4 separate regions of the Homo sapiens genome follow, and regions 2, 3 and 4 are each linked to region 1. Evidence: fine-mapped expression QTL. A gene starts in region 1. Each other region holds a variant in brackets. All regions are shown on one strand. Distances are from middle to middle.

What was found. PIP is the estimated chance that this variant, and not a neighbour inherited with it, causes the effect. A credible set is the group of variants that fine-mapping cannot tell apart.
Region 2: its variant is the best candidate, but not a certain one, in a credible set for the expression of ZNF415 in whole blood (INTERVAL, PIP 0.56).
Region 3: its variant is the best candidate, but not a certain one, in a credible set for the expression of ZNF415 in whole blood (INTERVAL, PIP 0.68).
Region 4: its variant is the best candidate, but not a certain one, in a credible set for the expression of ZNF415 in prostate (GTEx, PIP 0.68).

Annotation. Positions count from the first base shown.
Region 1 is chr19:53,130,031-53,135,181 of GRCh38, forward strand. It overlaps ZNF415 (zinc finger protein 415), which reads right to left and starts at 2,880. Exons shown (of 4, transcript NM_018355.4): 1 at 2,826-2,880. ZNF347 (zinc finger protein 347) reads right to left here. Exons shown (of 5, transcript NM_032584.3): 5 at 4,905-5,151.
Region 2 is chr19:53,153,306-53,158,456 of GRCh38, forward strand. It overlaps ZNF347 (zinc finger protein 347), which reads right to left. Exons shown (of 5, transcript NM_032584.3): 2 at 428-488. The coding sequence starts at 442. Among named protein-coding and RNA genes, the nearest start is that of ZNF347, 3.2 kb to the right of the region's middle. The variant C/A (reference allele first, on the strand shown) is at 2,325.
Region 3 is chr19:53,092,542-53,097,692 of GRCh38, forward strand. The region is part of intron 1 of ZNF160 (zinc finger protein 160); the gene reads right to left. Among named protein-coding and RNA genes, the nearest start is that of ZNF160, 8.3 kb to the right of the region's middle. The variant C/T (reference allele first, on the strand shown) is at 2,171.
Region 4 is chr19:52,898,937-52,904,087 of GRCh38, forward strand. It overlaps a transcript of ZNF320 not described here. Among named protein-coding and RNA genes, the nearest start is that of ZNF320, 3.9 kb to the left of the region's middle. The variant A/G (reference allele first, on the strand shown) is at 2,506.

The DNA.
Region 1 (5,151 bases):
CTCCAGCCTGGGTGAGAGAGCAAGACTCCAGCTCACAAAAAAAAAAAAAAAGAAAAGAAAAAAAGAAAATTCCCAGACCCTCTTTCACATATCTGAGCAAAAGAAACTTCTTCAAGGTTTTATCACATTGGTTCCAAATGCAGCTCACAGCTTACTATTTTAACAAATTACACAAAAGAAGAAAATTGAATAATAGACTAGTTAAACTAGGTTTCCATGTTAAGGTAAAAACATCATTGACATCTTTATCAGGTACACATTGAAACAATCTAAAATTACCTACTAGTCAACAAATAATGCTTCTATTATATAATAAAGAGCAGAAAGCATGCAGACCTCTATCAAAACTGGACACAATTAATTTCAAAGGGAAAGATTTTGAAATTGTTAAGAAATATCTGATGAATTTTGGAGCTAAAAAAATTGAAAACACATTATATTTAGAAAATGCCATGAGCTGATTATAGGATGCCACCAAAGTTACTTTGGAAATAATTATATACAGAAAAATAGAAACTGAATTAATGAAGATCTATCTCAAGTTGCAAAATGAACTATACATGAGATGAAAGGGAATTAGTAAGAAAAAAAGCAAATCAATTACAAAAAGCAACAACACTTTTTTTGTTTGTTCTTTGTTTTTTTTTCAGACGCAGTCTTGCTCTGTCACCGGATCTCGGCTCTTGGCTCACTGCAACCTCCGCCTCCCGGGTTTACACAATGCTTTGCCTCAGCCTCCTGAGTAGCTGGGATTACAGATGCGTGTCACCATACCTGGCTAAGTTTTGTATTTTTAGTAGAGATGGGGTTTCACCATCTTTGCCAGGCTGGTCTTGAACTACTGACCTTGTGATTCACCCACCTCGGCCTCCCAAAGTGCTGGGATTACAGGCATGAGCCACCATGCCCAGCCTCAACACTTTTAATGTTCCTTTTGAGCAACGTTGTCCAATCCGCAGCCCAGGAAGGCTTTGAATGCAGCCCAACACAAATTCCTAAACTTCCTTAAAACATTTTGAGATTTTCTTGCAACTTTTTTTTTTTTTTTTTTTTTTTTTTTTAGCTCATCAGCTATTGTTAGTGTTAGTGTACTTTATGTGTGGCCCAAGACAATTCTTCTTCCAATGTGGCCCAGGGAAGCCAAAAGATTGGACACCCCTGCTTTAGAGAGACACTATGTAGTGACAGTCTTTCACTTTCTGCCCAGCTTTACTCTCCCACTCCCCCTTCCCCTCCCCCTGCCCCAACGCCAGGGAAGGGGAAGAGGATGACCTGTGGAATTAATGAGTCAAGTCACTTCCCTCTGCCTTAACAGGGATTGCAAGTGGAAGCTAACTTCTGATGCCATAATTATAAAATGCACCAGCCTTAATAGACAGGAGCTTTGCAATTCTCATCATCTGTGCATTTTAAACTTATAAAGACAGAAATCAACAGGTCAAAAGGTAGTCATCACATCCAGTCAGTTCACAACTCACCTGGACCTGGGGTCCCCCTCTTTCCTCATTATGGTGTGTTTCCCTCCCTCGTTCCGTACATCGCTCTCATTCTCACCTTCTTTCTCTAGCTCTTTCCTTCCCCTTTATTTTCTCCCTAGGATTCTGCTCATTTTGAGCCCCTCTCCTCTCCTGCTGCTCCTCCCCGTCTTCCCTCTATTCTTTCTCTTCCACTTGCTCTTTCCATTCTTGCAATGTATTTAATTCCTCTTTCTTCCTAATCTTTTCATTGTCCCAGTCTCCACATATTTCTGGCTCTTTCTTCCCCATTTCAGCACTCCCTGTTAAATTCCCTCTTCCCTGTTACACACCGTTGTCCCCACTCTTTGGCACCCCCAGATCCCAGGCCTCCCCGTGCTGTGGTTCTCCCTCTGCTTCTCCTTGTCATCGGCTGCCCCCTCTTGCTGTCCCGGTACCACACTGCCCTGTCTGCCCTGGCTCCAAATCCCTTCTGCTCTCCCCCACTCTCTGTCTGAGGAGCCTCCTCCTTTGCTGCCCCTCTCCCTACCTGGCTGTCCTTCATCTCTCTGGATACTGTGCTTTTTCTCGAAATGTGTCTAGTTACTTTTCTCTCCCTGCTACTTTCTCGGCTTCTTCTTCCACTCTTACTGTCTCTGAAAATCTCTAACCATCCTCTACTTTGCCATCTGTTTATTGGTTTGCCTCATTCCTTCCTGTCTCAGGTTTTCTACTGCTCTCTCTGTCCCTCGATCCCTTTGGCCCACACATTCACAGGACGGTTTGGGGTAAGACGCCTGCATCCTGGAGGAGCGCATTTTCCACGGGGTGGAGGAGGGCAGGCAAGAACATCGGGTGTCACAGGACAGGCCCTGAGCACCTCCCCAGCGCGGGCTCAGGGGAGGCCTGGGGAGCAGCGGGGCCCGGCACGAGGAGGAGGGAGGTGGGGCGCGACAGCGCCTTCAGACAGGGGTGGGGTCTGCAGGATCCCAGGACCAGGCAGAGGACGCAAGGCTCCCCGGGACTGCGGCTGCAGCTGCGGCGCTGCGCTCCAGGGGCCGACGAGGGCAAGGCTGGGAGGCACCCAGGACGGGAATACACCTCTTGGGTGAAGACTTTAAAAAGCCCGGGGATGGGGGAGGGGGTCAGGAAAAGGTTTTAAGCGGGAGGAAGAAGCAAAAGGCCGGGGACGGGGAGCAGCCTCAAAGCGACTTCAACCCAAAGGGAAGCGACTCCGGACCCACACTGCGAGGCCTGTATTCACCTGGGGTGGAGTGTACGGGGATTTTAAGGGCCGTATCGACCCTGGACATCGGCTGTGGAAATGGGAAACAGGGAGCGCAGGTTTAATCTACACAGAGGGTCACTCACGCTCGACGCCGTCACCTTCACCCAACGCGATCCGTTTCCGGGCCTGTAGGAAACTGCGCATGCGCGGAGAGAAGAGCCCGGGCAGCCTGAAGGAATGGCTGGAGTGGGCGGGGTCTGCGCCGCTTTAAGGTAAAAAAATCAGAGTTGTGTGGGCCACTTATGGTGGAAACCAAAATGTTTTCCACTTACCAAGTTGAAAACGGTTTATGTTAAAACTATTTTGCCTGCAGGTTGGACCCGATCCTGCTAGGGAGTCTCCTGCAGCTTAGCAGTCCGGGAACTGGGATTTCGGTGGGGAATCCAAAACTAGCAGTGATTGGATCCATAAAAGTTACCAAAAAACAAAAATGAAGTGTCTGGAATCACTCCACTGGATTTCAAGACTACCAATATAGGAAAGGTAATAAAAACTGTGTGGTTTTGGGGCAATAAAAGACATATGGATTGATGCAATACAGTAAGAGAGTACAAAAATAGCCTCTACAGGTACTTCCAACTGATTTTTGACAAAGTTACCAAGGGAATTGAATGAAGAATTTTTAAAAACTGGTGAGGGGCTAACTTAATATCCACAGCAGGAAAGAAGTCATCTCTACTCAAACTTCACAACCGTACAGACATTAGTTCAACATTGACCATAGCCTAAATGTAAAATATCAAACCATAAAATGGTATCCTGTAGGAGACTGAAAGAAAAAATTACTCACAATAAAATCGTAAGAATCAAGAGCTTGTTCAAAAATTCTTAGCCATAGCAGCAAAAGCATGATTCATTAAAGAAAAAAAAAATCAACTGGTATTTACCAAATTAAAAACTTTTGGTCTGTGAAAGACCTTCAGACGATGAAAGAAAAGGTATTTGATATGGTTTGGCTCAGTGTCCCCATCAAATCTCATTTTCAAGTATAAACCTCAGGTGTTGAGGGAGGGACCTGGTGGGAGGTGACTGGATCATGGGGGTGGTTTTCCCCAAGCCGTTCTCATGATAGTGAGCTCTCAGGAGATCTCATGGTTTAAAAATCTGTGATAGTTCCTCCTTTGATCGCTCTCTCTCCTGCTGCAAGCAAGACGTGCCTTGCTTCGCCTTTGCCTTCCTCTATGATTGTAAGTTTCCTGAGGGCTCCCTAGCCATGCGGAACTGTGAGTCAATTAAACCTCTTTTGTTTATAAATTACCCAGTCTCAGGTTGTCACAGGAGGGTTTAGGCAGTGTGAAAATGGACTAATACAGTACTGAATAATAGAAAATATTTGCCTACCATATATCTGACATAAAACTGGTATGTGGAATGTATAAAGAATCCTAGAACGACTTAAAAAAAAAGCAAAATAATCAAATTAGAAAATGGATAGAACTATGAAGAGACATTTCACTGAAGCAGATATACTGAGATAAATGGGCACATAAAAAGATTTCCAACATCACCATCCATCAAATCTCAGACCTCAGCATATTCTGCTTTCTCCATGTGAACCCCTGGATGCTGTCAGAGATCATGAGAAACACAGGAGCTTCTACTGAACAGTCCAGTTGATGTGTATTAGCAACCTGTAATTGTTTTTGGAAACGAACAATGGAAACACAGATACAAAAATATTCTCAGCTCAAGAAATATGCACTTTGTCATTATTAGTGATTTTTTTTTTTTTTTGAGACAGAGTCTTGTTCTGTCACCCAGGCTGGAGTGCGGTGGTGTGATCTCAGCTTACTGTAACCTCTACCTCCCAGGCTCAAGCGATTCTCCTGCCTCAGCCTCTTGAGTAGCTTCAACCACACGCACGCGCCACCACACCCAGCTATTTTTTGTATTTTTAGTAGAGATGGGTTTTCACCATGTTGGCCAGGCTGGTCTCCAATTCCTGACCTCAGGAGATCCACCCCCCTTGGCCTCCCAAAGTGCTGGGATTACAGGGGTGAGCTACAGCGCCTGGCCACCACTAGAACTAACACCTCAGGTACTGGATGCCTCCTTCGAAAGATTGGATAATCGTTCTTACAGGATTATGTGGTAATGAGTGTCTCTGTCATTCATTTAGGTAAGATGCATACGCAATAGTGATCTATAAAATATAGACTTAATTGATCTATAAAAATATAGATTTAATACAAAGTTACCACAATCACAATGATATATGAAGATAAACCATTTAAAAATTACAAGAGATACTAACAAAATAGGTATAGATGGTGAGTAAAGGACAAAAATAACTAGCATTGTTACTGTAGCATCATCATTAAAAGCTTTGTCTTTGCAACCAGACAACATGGATTCAAATCTCGATTCTGCCTCTTACTGAAATGTGACAAGATGAGTCTTTTAAAGCAG
Region 2 (5,151 bases), 23 kb after region 1:
ATTTCCCCTTATTAGCCTTATTTTACATAATTTAGCAAGTATTTGTGCACATTAACACGTGACTTCCACGTGCAGCTGCTCTAATCCTGCTCCACAGAGAGCTGACAGTGCATCCAGATGTGGCCCCTGAACAATCCCTGCTGCCCAACAGCACTGACACCACAGGACCCTCACCCCGTCTCCATCCATGTCTGGGTGTGAGCCCTTCCCAGGACCATGCCCAGTGCAGCCTCTTCCCAAGCTCATGTCACTGGGTCACGAGAGATGGAATCTAAGTGAGATGAGAGGGACTGAGGGAAGGCACGCGTAAGTGCGAGCAAACCTGTCAGGCAGGACGCTTCAGACTCAGAGAAGATTCCCAACTTCAAAGAATGACATTTCAAGAAGAAATAAGAGACAGAACAATCCACTGATAATATTACCTTACCTGGGTGAGAGCCATGCCTGACTTGTCTTTCTTTCCTCTTCCTCTTCTTCAAGGGTTCTTCCTTAGGTAACAGGAAAGTGCCTTTAGAAGTCAATATTGAATATCCAAAATGTGCTGTTTATTGCTCAGAATCAACACATCCCCTTCCTATGCCACAATCACACACACACACAGGGAAGACCTCACCCTGTGGAAAGATGGTCTCAGCTGCCCACTGCACCAGGGCAATGCAGGGACAAGAAGCTCCTATGGGAAGATCAATAAGTGAGTTTCTGACCCCTTTCTTCAGAACCCACTCTCCTCCTGGAGAAGCCCACACACACGCTGCAGCAATTGGGAGCTGGGCTGGACTGAGCTCCCCCATTCAGGGCACAGACCAAGCCCTGACCAAACCCCATGCAGAGAACAGCCTCCCTCACCTCTCTGTGGATTGCAGGCCAATCTCAGGCCTCAGAAACAAAAGGTAGAGGCTGAACGTGGTGGCTCACACTATAATCCTAGCACTTTGGGAGGCTGAGGCAGAAAGATCAGTTGAGGCCAGGAGTTCAAGACCAGCCTAAACAACATAGTGAGACCCCATTTCTCTTAAAAAAAAAAAGTAATAAATTTAGCCAGGCACGGTCACTCACGTCTTGTAACCTCAGCACTTTGGGAGGCCTAGATGCTGGATCTAGAGTTCACAGGAGAGGCCTGCAGGTGACATGAAGCTGTGCAGGTGGGGTTGAAAGCCATGAGCTGAGTTGATAAGGAAAGGCAATGAGTGCGGACAGAGAAAAAAGTGGCTGGAGGACTAAGCCCACGTTCAGAGAACAGAAAGTTCTGGAGACACAAGAAGAGGAAAGCATAATGTGATTAGGGAGGCAACAAGAAAATTACAACAAATAGATGTGTAAAGCTTAACGGGATGTCCTAAAAGCCAAGAAAATAGAAGAGAAAGTGAGCAACTGTGCCACATGCTACTGATAGGAATGGAAAGATGACAGGAAATTAAACATTGAATTTCAAATGGATCCATCACTGGTAAATGAAAAAGAAAGGATCAGTGGAATGTTGGGTATGAGAGCTTGATTCAAGCAAGAGTTCAAGCAAGGACTGAAGGCAAGAATTGAACATAAAGTAAAAAAAAAAAAAATTGTAGTGTATTGTGCTCTTAAACGGAGCATAGAAGAGTACTTACTACAGACTGAAAGGTAGTTTAGAGTTTTGTTTTGTTTTTTTTTTTGAGATGAAGTCTCACTCTTGTCACCCAGGCTGGAGTGCAATGTTGCGATCTCGGCTCACCGTAACCTCCGCCTCCCAGGTTCAAGCGATTCTCCTGCCTCAACCTCCAGAGTAGCTGGGATCACAGGCGCGTGCCACTATGCCTGGCTAATTTTTGTATTTTTAGTAGAGACAGTGTTTCACCATGTTGGCCAGGCTGGTCTCGAACTCCTGACCTCAAGGGATCCACCTGCCTTGGCCTCTCAAAGTGCTGGGATTACAGCCGTCAGCCACCGTGCCTGGCCAATTTAGAGTATTTTTTGTTTTAAAGATGGAGCGTAGAAGAAAAAAAGACTTTATTCTGTGTGTGTGTGTGTGTGTGTGTGTGTGTGTGTGTGTGTGTTTGTTTTTTGTTTTTGAGACAGGGTCTCACTCTGTTGCCCAGGCTAGAGTGTGACAGCATGAACATGGCTTACTGCAGCCTCAAGCTCTCGTGTTCAAGCGATTCTCTCACCTCAGCCTTGCAAGTAGCTGGGAGCGCAGGTGCAAGCCACCACATCCAGCTTATTTTTTTCTATTTTTCGTAGAGACGGAGTCTTGCTATGTTGCCCAGGCTGGTCTCGAACTCCTGGACTCAAGCAATCCTCCCACCTTGGCCTCTGAAAGTGTTGTGATTACAGGTGTAAGCCGCTGTGCC[C/A]AGCCCTGTGTACGTGTCTTAATGGAGAACACCACTCCCTAGGTACAGGGATGAATTCCCTTGAAGTTAAAATTTTGAAAGCTTTACAGATTGTGAAGGAAAAAAAAAGTTAAAATTGATGGCACGCATATTGTCCTGAGACTGTGAGTGAGGCTGGTACATGGTACACAATTGCAGGGCCAGCAGCAGCCAGAAGCAGGAACAGGCCATTCCCAGTCACTACTGAGTAGAGATCACAGGTCCTGACAGGTGGGTGGGCCACTTGGAGGTCTTTTCCTTTAGTCTTTGAGATAGGAAAAAACCCAACTCTACATTCTGCTCTCACACTAAACACAGAATACTTCACCTCTAGTCACCAAAATGTGTGTGTGGCTTTTCCCACAATGACCAGGGGACTCCCAGGGGACTCCCAGCTCGGGGGGGGGGGGGGGTTAGGCGGGGGTCCTACAATTTCATTCAACTCTGATATTATCTACAAGACAGCATGGGCCGGGCACAGTGGCTCATGCCTGTAGTCCCAGCACTTTGGGAGGCCAAGGCAGGAGGATCACTTGAGGCCAGGAGTTAGAGACCAGCATGGCCAACATGGCAAAACCTCGTCTCTACTAAAAATACAAAAATTAGCTGGATGTGGTGGTGCACACCTGTAATCCCAGCTACTTGGGAGGCTGAGGCAGGCAGGAGAATCGCTTGAACTCGGGAGGCAGAGGCTGCCTTGAGCCAAGATTGCGCCACTGCACTCCAGCCTGGACAACAGAGCGAGACTGTTTCAAAAAGAAAAAAAAAAAAAGACTGCATGACGAGGTGCTACAGGTTCAGAGCTCAGTCTAAAACTGCCCCTCACTTCAGACACAGTATGCCAGTGGTAACTGTCACTTATACTTTTGAGTGACCTGATAAATACTGTGGTTCTCTTAACCCCTCCTCGGCTTTGATTAACTTTCTAGGACAGCTCTTCCTTCTGACTGTTCATCTGTATCTTCTGTAATATCCTTCATAACAAATGTGTAAACTAAGTGAAGTGTTTTCCCTGAGTTCTTTGAGCCGCCCTCACAAATTAATAGAACCTGAGGTGGTGGGGAGGGGGATGTCAAGGGAATCCCCAGTGTATAGCTGGTCGCTCAGAAGTTCAGGTACCAACGGGAGACTTACAACTGGCACCTGATGCGGGGGCAATTTCGTGGAACTGAGCCTCAATCAGTGGGATCTGATGCTAACTCCAGGTAGAGAGTTTCAGAATTGAGTTAAACTATACGACACTCAGTTAGTGTCTGATAGAGAACGGGTTGTTGGTGGGAGAAATCCGCACACATTTTCGTGAGTGGAGGCGAGACACTGTGTAGAATGTGCCCTGTTGTATTGAGTGTGACAGGAAAGAAAATCAAAGGAAAAATATTTTTTCCTCTTAGTTCATACACTCGCCCACACCCTACCCTATTCCAGGAAAAGGGAAGTGGGTGGACTCAAAACTAAATGAGCGAAGTCACTGCCCTCTGGTTTGAATAGTGATTGCAAATGAAGCTATACCCTAATACTAATAATTGTCAAATGCACGTGTTACGCATTTTACATAAAGGAGTTTCTTCCATTCTCATTTGCAACTGCATAATTTAAGTAAACGTATTTTAAATGTGTTGCATTATTTTAAACCCAGAAACCAATGTCACAATGTCATCATCACATCTAATCAACGCACCACTCACCTGGACTCAGGGTCCCTCTCTTGCTTCCATACTGTGTGTTTCCCTCCCTCATCCTCTACATAGCTCTCATTCTCACATTAGCTTATTTTTTATTTTCTGTGTTTTTCCCCTGGTTCTTTGCGCGTCGTTCTGAGCCCCTCTCATCTCCTGCTATTTCTCCCCTTCTTCCTCCGCTTGCACCTGTTCTGTCCCATTCTGGGGCCTTGTTTCAACTCTGATTCCTCTTTCTCCCCAGTCTTTTCATTGTCCCCAGTCTCCATATATTTCTGCCTCTTTCTTCTCCCATCTCTGCTCCCTCTGTTGAATCTCCTCTTCCCTTCTACACCTCTTGCCCCACTCTCTGGCACCCCCAGATCCCAGGCCTCCCCCTGCTGTGGTTCTCCTTCTGCTCTCCTCGTCACCGGCTGTCCCCTCTTGCTGTCCCAGCACCACGCTGCTTGTCTGCCCTGGCTCCAAATCCCTCCTCCTCTCCCGGACTCTGTCTGAGGAGCCTCCCACTTTCTGGCCCTCTCCCTACCTTGCTGTCCTTCATGTCTCTGGACATCGAGCTTTTCTCTACATTTCCCCAGTTGCTTTTCTCCTTCTGCCTTCTCAGCTCCTTCTCTTACCATCTGCAAATCCCTCGCCCATCCTCTACTTTGCCATCTGGTTACGGGTTTCCCTCACTCTTTCCTCTCAGTTTTTCTACTTCTCTCTCTGTCTCTGCCCCTTTCTCTACCTGCTAATCCCCTTGGTCCACACATTCACAGGAAGGTTTGGACTAAGACGCCTGCATCTTGGAGGAGCGCATTTTCCAGGGGCTGGAGCTGGGCAGGCAAGAACACCGGGTGTCACAGGACAGGCCCCGGGCACCTCCCCAGCGCGGGCTCAGGAGAAGCGGGGACTGCGAAGGGGAGGCCTGGGGAGCAGCAGGGCCCGGCACGAGGAGGAGGGAGGTGGCGGGGCGACGGCGCCTTAGAAGAGGGGTGGGGTCTGCAGGATGCCAGGACCAGGCAGAGGACGCGGCCTCGCCGGTACCGGGGCTGAGGAGCTGCGCTCCAGGGGCCGACGAGGGCGAGGCTGGGAGGCACCCAGGGCGGGAATCCACCTCGCGGGCGAGGACTTTAAAAAGCCCGGGGCGGGAG
Region 3 (5,151 bases), 37 kb before region 1:
GACCTCAAGTGATCCACCTGCTTTGGCCTCCCAGAGTGCTGGGATTACAGGCGTGAGCTACCATGCTGGCTGGATATTCTCCTTCATATGAACCCTATACAAAGTAAAACTAGATTATCAAATATTAAATGGCATCGTATCTACTAGCAATAATTTTATGGCAACATCTGTGAATTTACCTCTACTTTGAAGTATGTTTGCCTCTCACATCCCCACATGTGGAAGATTTCATCAATGGAAAAGTGGTGATTAATTGAAAATACAATTGTTTAGACAGGAAAAATAGCATATTTCACAACTACATCTACAGTTTCAAAAGATATGGTGTCTGGGATAGATTTGGGGACTTTTGCAAGGTAGACTGCTCTGTGTTACGCAATATTGCTAAGTACCTATGTTGACAAGAAAGCAGTTTCAGCATGGACTTCCATGATCCCAAGCAAAGAAATGATTTGATTTTGGATCTTTTCATTAAATTGAGAATAGTAGGGGTGAATCTGATTATAGATGAAAGCCATGAATCCATTTTGTATATGCAGAGTTTAAATGCTTATACATTTTCATTGAAGCAAAATCAACATATTCACAAGAGATTTAAAAAGGATATTTCTGGCCGGGCACGGTGGTTCATGCCTGTAATCCCAGCACTTCACTTTGGGAGGCCGAGGCAGGTGGATCACCTGAGGTCAGGAGTTCAAAACAAGCCTGGCCAACATGGTGAAACGTTGTCTCTACTAAAAATACAAAAATTAGCCAGGCGCGGTGGCAGCGCCTGTTATCCCAGTTACTAGGGAGGCTGAGGCAGGAGAATCACTTGAACCTGGGAGGCAGAGGCTGCAATGAGCCAAGATCGTGCCACTGCACTCCAGCCTGGGCAACAGAGCAGGACTCCATCTAAAAAAACAAAAAAAAAGAAGAAAGGATGGAAGGGGGAGGCTTAACCTTTGCTATCTGCTAGGATTACAGGGTCAAAATCGGCTTCTACATTGTCAACACATAACACCAAGTGAAACTCAAAACTAATGAACTTGCCCTGGTACCTTGGCCTTTGAGACTCGGCACTGAATCCAGCCTGGGCAACATAGTAAGACCCCATCTATACAAAAAAATTTAGAAATTATCCAGGTGTGGTGGTGCATGTCTATAGTCCCAGCTATTCAGGAGGCTGAAGTGAGTGTGAGATTGCAGTGAGCTATGATCGCACCACTCCAGCCTGGGTGACAGAGCCTGTCTCAAAAAACAAAAAACAGAAGAAAAAAGCTTTGAAGGGCACTCAGCCTTCACTGTGGGTGTACTGAATGTTCCTGTCACACATAAGAGACATCATTAACTGCTAAAGGAAAATTTCAGCTAATTGAAAAAATGAGATGCACCAACTTCATTTCAAAGCCATATACATTTAAAATTCCCTTACAATTGTGTAATAGATCAACAATTGAAAGATAAGGAAACAAGGCATTAGTGATGCACATGCTCCAATGAGACCCCGATATCATACAAGGTAACACTCCAAACTATTTTATCTTCCAAAATGCATCCGAAAGCTTCTTGATCTACAACACAAAATACTCCAAAATACCAAAGGTAACCCAGAAATTTATCTCTGAGATTTTCCCTATAATTCCTCTATTTTAAAAAGTATTCTTTATGTTTAAGGGAATGGTTGGCGACCTAAATTACCAGATACCGTTCCTCCACACACCCTGGTCCAGGGTCCTTGAAACGCCCCTGGACCTAAGCCCAGAGTTCTCTTTCTTCCATCCCGGTGCCTGGCAAATAGAAATGGAAACGATGTTCCGATCGTTGTCACTATGAAACTGAACACAGCACAAGTAGAAATTTCACCTTCGTTTCATCCTCTAAACAGACAAATCAGGTCCCGGATTAATTAAACGGTTCTAATTGCCAGTTCCAGGATGAAACCACTGCCCCACAGGGACCATCCGCTGATGCCCCTGCACCCCTCCTGGTACCCTGAGCTAAGATGAGTTGTGATCCTCTTAATGGTAGGATGCCTGTCTCCACCTGCAAACAAAATGAGTTTTTCACTTAAATCGTTTTCAATGTAAGAGTAAAAAAACCTTAGCCTTCAATTAAGTGGCCCAGTACCATTCTGTTCTTTTGCCTTAAATTGTTTGAAATGTTGGATTAACTGAAAATAAGCAGGAAG[C/T]GTCCCTGGACTGAAAATAAGCCGGAAGCATCCCTGCTTATTAACTGAAAATAAGCAGGAAGCATCCCCGGCTAATTTCAATTAGCTGAAACTTTATTTTAGCAGTGCAATGCTGTTGATCCAGTCCTAGTGGAGAGAAAGGCTGACATAGCAGAAAATGACCTGGGGCCAAGAGGAGTAGAGAGCCCAGGCCCGCTCCTTTCCCGGCCCTGCCCGCTTCCCACAGCCCAGGCTGCACCATAGCAGCTTCCACCCTCCCATCCCGCCGCCCTCTTCCAGCCCTTTCCCGTTGCCCAGACCCCAGCCCAGGGCGACTTTTACCCTTCTCACCCCACCCCTTCCCCACTGCCCAGGCCCCGCCCCCACGGTAGTCCCACCCTCCCACCCCACCCTCTTCCACCCCTTTCCCATTGCCCAGACCGCACCCCAGGGCGACTTTCACCCTCCTCACCCCGCCCCCTCCCCACTGCCCAGGCCCCGCCCACAGCAGTTCCACCCTCCCACACGACCCTCTTGCACCCCTTTCCCATTGCCCAGACCCCACCTCACGGTGGCTTCCACCCTCCCCACCTGGCCTCTCCCCACTATCCAAGACCCGCCTCTCGCTGGCGACAGCTCCCTCCCAGAATCCGCTTCCAGTTTTCTCACCGGCAGGAGAGCATTCAGGCCTTTCAGGGCACTCCAGCCCTGTCCAACCACACTCGGAATCCACCATCCCACCAGACGTTAAAATCCCCAGGTGCGCTCATGGGATTGGTAGCGAGTCCCAGCGTTTCCGCGGGAAACTCTGAGACCCGGTGGCTCTGCAGCTTGTCTATGATTTGAACCCTCCCCTTGATTTGGAGACTGGATTGCTCTTTTTAATACTCCCAGTTGGTGGCTGGTGTGCTTCCCAGCTGTCCGCAGGTTTGTTCTCATGAGAGATGACTCCAGAGTGTCTAGTCTTTGCTTTGCATAACGGATGAGGAATACAAAATGTCTTAATCTTATGAATATATAAATTGTCTGTTTATGCACAATGTTCAGTCGTTTATTCACTCATCTCCCGTGGAATCCTAAGCACAATTATAAAAGAGTCACGTTACATGAGATCAGCGTCTAACACAAAGCTTCTGTCTCAATAACAGTAAATAATAATAGCAACATTAAATGAAATATTAGTATTGCTAAAATGGGAGTGTAGTAAAAATTAAATAAGTAAATAATTAAAAGGAAATGATATATGGTCAGGTGCGGTGACTTATGCTTGTAATCCCAGCACTTTGGGAGGCCGAGGTGGGCAGATCATATGAAGTCAGGAGTTCAAGACCAGCTGACCAACATGGTAAAACCCTGTCTCTACTAAAAATACAAAAAAATGACCCAGGAGTGGTGGCACATGCCTGTAGTCCCAGCTACTCCAGAGGGTGAGGCAGGAGAATTGCTTGAACTCAGGAGACAGAGGTTGCAGTGAGCTGAGATCGCACCACTGCACTCCAGCCTGGGAGACAGAACGAGACTCCGTCTCAAAATAAATAAATAACTGAATGAATGAATGAAATATTAGGCCATTTTTATGGTCTTCACTTTGGGAGACTGATGTATGCAGGGGTGGACTGCATGTTTGTCCTTGGGGTGGTCTTTTTCGTGAGAAGGGAGCTGAGCAGGACTAACTGAGGGGCAGAGCCAAGGGCCCTTCATGGAGACCACTCTGCTTACCAACCTGTGGAAGGGCAAGCGCAAGTCCACCCAGAAACACATCTGGCTGACTATGGGATCCCTGTCTGAGGCTCAGCAGACCCACGTGGCCAATAAAAGACCCTAAATTCTGCAAAAAGAAGAGTTTGTCTCTGTGCCCAGGCCCCTCCATGGAAAAAAGGTCCTGGGGTCTAAGATTTCTCACTTGGCAATGATGTTGGCTTGAATATTATTCACAGACCCAGATCCTTGGGTCTTGCGTGGGGCAAACTGACTGCAGAACTGCAGGAAGTGAGAGTCTGAACAGAGCAGCAGAAAGGCAGGCAGGAGACCTGAGGGAGGGGAGAAAGGAGAGAGACAAACAGACCAACCCGTCCTCTCCCTCAATCACCCGCCTGGGGAAGCATTAGTTTCCCATCATAGAGAGGACAACGGGGAAAGGGAGAAGCGTGTGCATAGGATGAGATGTGTGTTGGGTGGACAGAAAGACTCCTTTCCCTAAATGTGACCCCATTAGCTCACCCCATTCTATTGCACAAATTCCTGAGCGGAGGGGCACCCTGTGGGGATGAACACAGCTCTTCCTGCCTCCAGTTCCTGCGTCTCCCTGCCATGACCAGGGCTGTAACCCTCCAACTCCCTTCCCAGGGCCCCGTGGCCCCTCTGCACTGGAGAAAGGTCCATGTTCCACAGCGGGTTTCAAGGACCTTGCCCCTCAGCTCCCCAGCTGCCTTGTGACTCTGTGACTCTGTTATCTTGGAATAAACAGGGAGAGGCCACCGGCCTGGCTGCAAGAATGTGGCAGCTTTATCTTCCCAAGGACAGTCCCAGTGGAAGCCTTTGGGCCGCAGGTCAGTGTGCTGTGTTTCACTCTGATTCTTGGAGAAATCTTTCCCTTACTCTGGGACCCTGATAATCACTCCCTCTTGAGTTGCACCCACAGACGCCCCCACAACAAACCCTCCCTAATGAAAGCCATCTGCGCCTGATTCTTAGGATCCCCGTTGCCCTCTGGACTCAGACACGCTTACAAACTCCCACACTCCCCATATACTTCATAAAGATCCCACAATCCCCAGATACTTCATAAAGATCCAGAAGCCCTGTTATGAAATCTCACAAGCCCCAGTAACTCATGGAATAATATACACAAACACCCCAGGAACTCACTGACCCAGGGCAACGTATTTCCACTCATAGTGACTCCACCCCACAGGGGAATACCACTGAAACCTACCAATAAAACAGAGATGTCTCTAATGATGCAATTAGACCCCAACATCAGGAAAGGAAACACTCCAAAT
Region 4 (5,151 bases), 230 kb before region 1:
GTTTTTTCTTAAAACAGGTACTGAGTATAAAACAATATGAGAGGGTCTCTGTCTTCCTTTATTTCTTCTTTTTGAGAGTCTCACTTTTTATTAGTGGGAGTTCTTACTCTTGTTTTTGCTACTTATGTCTTTTTGTGTAATAGATTGATAGTGATTCATATAGTACACTTGTGCTGAATCATTTTGGTGAACTAAGGTAGCGATGAAGCTTTTTATCATTTGAAGAGGTACAGGTAGCAAACAAGAGAGCAGTAAGCAGCTTTTTATTACTATTATAACTCTTATTATAAGAGTTTTAAATCCTCCTATTGCTGGGAACTAATTTTTAAACATGGCTCCTGGATTGAGTCCGTGCCACACCTGTACGGGTACATGTGTCAGTTTTGTTATATTTTTAACTATGTCTTCAACTACTTTCCTCTGATGATCTATGTGTAGACAACAATTAGTAAGGTTAAATTTTCTACAAACTTTTCCTTCAGCTGCTAGCAAGTAGTCGAGAGCTAGTCTATTTTGATAGATAGCATTTCTTTTTCTTTTTTTGGTGATGGAGTCTCGCTCTGTCACCCAGGCTGGAGTGCAGTGGTGCAGTCTCAGCTCACTGCAAGCTCCACCTCCCGGGTTCACGCCATTCTCCTGCCTCAGCCTCCCTAGTAGCTGGGACTACAGGTGCTGCCACCGCACCCGGCTAATTTTTTGTATTTTTAGTAGAGACGGGGTTTCACTGTGTTAGCCAGGATGGTCTTGATCTCCTGACTTTGTGATCTGCCCGCCTCAGTCTCCCAAAGTGCTGGGATTACAGGCGTGAGCCACCGCGCCCGGTGATAGATAGCATTTCTTATCAGAGTCTCTTGCCGGGCAAGAACAGTCAAGGCTTGACCGGTTTTATTAGTAATAATTTTTAAAACAGCTTGCAACTGTATGATTCGGTTGAGCATGTAGATGGGGGTTCGATAACCTCATGAGCTGTCTTGTGTCTAAGTGGCAGGCTTACAGTATTATATAATTCTTTAGGAGGTCATTTATCATCTTTCTAATTACCTATGGCTATGCTTCGTTTTTCACAGGAAGCATAGACTGGGAAGCCTAGAAGTTCACCTGTATTTATGGGCAGTAAGAGGAAAGATGGCTTACTGGTGCCAATTACACAGCTACCTGTCCACTGATCAGGCAGCTTAGCATGAGCTCTGTCTATGTATCTGGTATAACCTGGTGGGGGCCGTCTAGTCCTGGTGGAATTCCGGGTGGGCCTCAACAGTCTGCAACTTTGGAAATTTACTGAATGGATTTCTTTTTGTGTAACTGGAACTTTAGTATGTAACTGTTTTTGTGGTACTATTATACAACTTTTGCCTAAGACAACTAAGCCGCCTTACAGGATGATGAGTGAATTTTTTTCTTTCTCTAGCTATGCAATACCGTCTAATAATTGAGACTTTTAGAACTTAAAAATTGTCAGGGTGGTTCTTTTGGGCTGGGAATTCATCAGGAACTGGGTTTGTAGGAACTAATTCTCGGGCTTCCTATGGCCATTGATCTCTTGTTACAGTTCTTCTACAAACATAACATGAGGTGACTTGTAGAGACTGGGCCTCATGTTAGGCTAATTGCAAAAACAAATTTTTAGTTTTTCCTGGAATCTTAGGTACTGGCACATTTATTTCATCATAGAAAGCCTGAAATACTGGTTCTGGAGAGCATTTTTCAACTTCTTTTTTTATTAGGATGTTTACGCTAGGATCTAGTTTTTTTTCATCAATGCTTAATTTACATTTTTTTTTTAATTGTACTTTGGGTCTGATGGGTTTGTGATTATCAATTTTAAAAGGCTGCAGCCCCCACTCATGCAAGAGGGGCTGACTTTTCTTTTTTGGAGCTAAACAGGATTATTTTTATCTTCTTTTTAAGTAGCCCAAATGACATAAGACTAGTATTGACACATCTCACATAAATATGATTCTTGACAGATATACTTATTTTTTTTTTTAACTGTGTAACTTTTTTTCTAATTTAGAGAACTGCATCTTATTCTATGCTGCTTACTATCAATAGTGGCACAAGCATCAAATTTTAAGGTTATATTTTTGGGGACCCCTCTTCTGTTCTAGCTATTATTTTACTTGTGTCACTTAGAAAAAGACTAGTCTTTAATTTTATTTTAAAAACTGTAATCATGGGAGGCTTAAAATGGGTTATAACACACATCAGGTTGGTTATTCCTTGGGCTACATACTTTGGATAGAATAGCATTATACAAACAAATTTCTTTTAGAATCCTGGTACACTTATAATAACTATAAAATAATAGGACTGTAGCAATCTTTTGTCTAACTTCAGTGACTTGATGTAGATACTGGAAACAGTTCTTTGTCTGAGGAAGGTCAGTTGAAGTCCTTACTGTACAAGTCTAAATTTTAAGGAAAATGAGTCCTGCGATGAGTTTCTTCCTGCTTCAGTCGTGCGTGGACCAGTCAGCTTCCGGGTGTGACTGCAGCAGGGCTTGTC[A/G]TCTTCTTCAGAGTCACTTTGCAGGGGTTGGCGAAGCTGCTCTTATCTACGTACAGCTCCTAGTCTACTGATGTTTAAGGGTGGTCTCAGAGGTTGGGCCCACTAGAATAAACTGAGTCCAGCACCTCTAAACAGTTATGTTTAACTGGGCTCTTTGATACTAGGAGTAAGGTGGCGGGGTTAGGGTGTTGCAAACTTCAATGGTTATGTGGGGATTTTCACAGAGCAAGCTTTGGTATCTAGTTAGTCTAGCGTTTATTAGCTAATGATGTCTTTTGTTATTTATTAAAGGGACTTTATGTTTATGTTTTGCCTAAGAGTTAGCTTATCTGCTTCTTGTGCTAACAGGGCCATTGCTGCCAGGGCCCTTGGACATGGGGGCCAGCCTTGGGAAACCTCGTCTAGTTGTTTTGAGAGTCAGGCTACTGGCCTTGGCCAGGGCCTTACAGTCTGGGTTAAAACTTCAACTGCCATTTTTTTTTTTCTTTCTGACACATAGAGTGCAAAGAGTTTTGTCAGGTCAGGTAGCCTCAGGGCTGGGGCTGACATGAGTTTTTCTTTTTTTTTTTTCTGGTTGATGAAATACCAGGGTGAAATGGACTAAACCATAAGTGCCACTCTAGTTATTCGGCAGAGTGCCTACTAAAGGTCTACTACAATACCACCACACATCTGCTCAGAGATGAACAAGGGCTGACCGATTGATAAGCTCTTGAAAATTCTTAAGCTCACTGCATCCTTTCAGGTCTCCAAGGAATGCTAAATCTCCTCTCTGCCGTGAGATACAAGAAGTGAACTTAGTATTGGGAGACGGAAGCTGGAAGGCCCTCGGGGGCTGATCCGCAGGGACTTCGGGATATAGCAGAGAGAGCTATATGTTACTCCAGGCTGTAGAATCCTGGAAAAGAGCTACCATGCAGCCCACACCTGGTCAACTACAGGACCACCTTAGTGGAAGGGGGACAATCAGGGCCTCTGGCCTGCCATGTGCACAAGCATAACAATTGCTTTTGTTTAATGTGCAGATGGAATATTTGATCTATTTCAACCAGGCATTTGCATCTTGGTATGCTGTCTCAATTGCCAAAGTTTGTTTTAAGTCTTTAACTTCTATCATCCTCTAGTAAAATGAATGCTTCCTTTAGCACCGATTTTTATTAGTTTTTAGACCAAAGAAAGCTGAACACCATTTTATATTTAATAATGCTTCTTGTATGATTTTTATACCAGATAAGCTAAATTTTACTTTTATATTAGTGTGTTACTAATGTTAAATTTAATTTTAATGAAACTTTGTAGACATATTTATCTAATTTTTCATGTTTGACCATAAGGTTAGATTTTGTAGACTCTTTTTAACTTTTTGTAATTTTTGTTAAAGAGCAGGTTGATGCTTTAAGAAAAAACCTGTTGCATTTTTACTTTGATGTCCGTTTCACAGAAAAACTGGATGATACCTTTTTAACTTTAGCTAATATGTTTACACACAGAATTTTCTTTACAATTAATGTTTTAAAACTTGCTTAAACTTTCAAACAATAATTTTTTTAACTTTTTAATATAGGTAAAAATCCACATTCTTATGCCTCCTTATAATCTTTTTACTATAGGTATATTTTACTTTTCTTATACACCTTGTACATAAACTGTTTCTTCAATAATAGGAGGCCTTATTACTTTTAAATTATACATTTTTTGCATAAAAAAATTTTTTAAAGCAAACTTTATGTCTTTGGACTAGACTGTCTAAGGCTACCAGATTAGAAGTTACTATAATACATGCTACGCTGTTAACTTTTAGCAAACTTCACTTTTGTTGAAAACCTTGTAAGTTTGGGACTTCAATTATCCTTTGCTATTAATAAGACCTTGTTTAGTCTAAATTAACTTAGAATTGGTATAGATGGCCTCTTTTTCTCTCTGCTGGTCTTTTCTTGCCTCTGCCAGCCACTTATGCTGCTGTTCTTTTAACTACTGTGGGGGGCGGGGGGAGGAGGTCTAAAACCAGGTGTAACTGTCTGTGTACTGAAACTGGTCTGGGTGCCTTGGCTTACAGGTTACCTTGTGCCATATCTTTGAAACTAGGGACCCATCCAGGCTTCCTTCTGATGGCTAACCTACCTCAAATGCTGGCCAGTCTATTTCACACAAAGTTCTAAGTTTTCCTGGGGTCACAGTTACACCATAATCTCCTTTAAATTCTTTCTTGAAATTCTTTAACATATTTCTTAGTGGGGTGGGCTTACTTTGTGCCTGAACTATGTTTTTTTTTTCTTCTGAGACAAAATGCCATGCTCACACCACACATACTCACCACAAGAATGGGTAAAGAGGGCACACACACGCACTTTTACCGTTTATACCAAACCAAAATCATGAAATTCAAAATCTGAGTACTAAAAAATTCAAGCCAAGTCAAAACCAAAACTAAAGTATCTAACAATTCAAATCAAGTCAAAACCAGAACAAAAGTGCCAATGCAGGCATGCTGTGGGTGATCAGGCCACGCTTCCACTCAGATGGAGTGGGGCAAGTTCCAAAGACTAGTCTTACTAAGTAAAGCCAAGTCAAAACCAGGACAAAAGTGCCAATACAGGCATGCTGTGGGTGATCAGGCCACGCTTCCACTCAGGTGGAGTGGGGCAA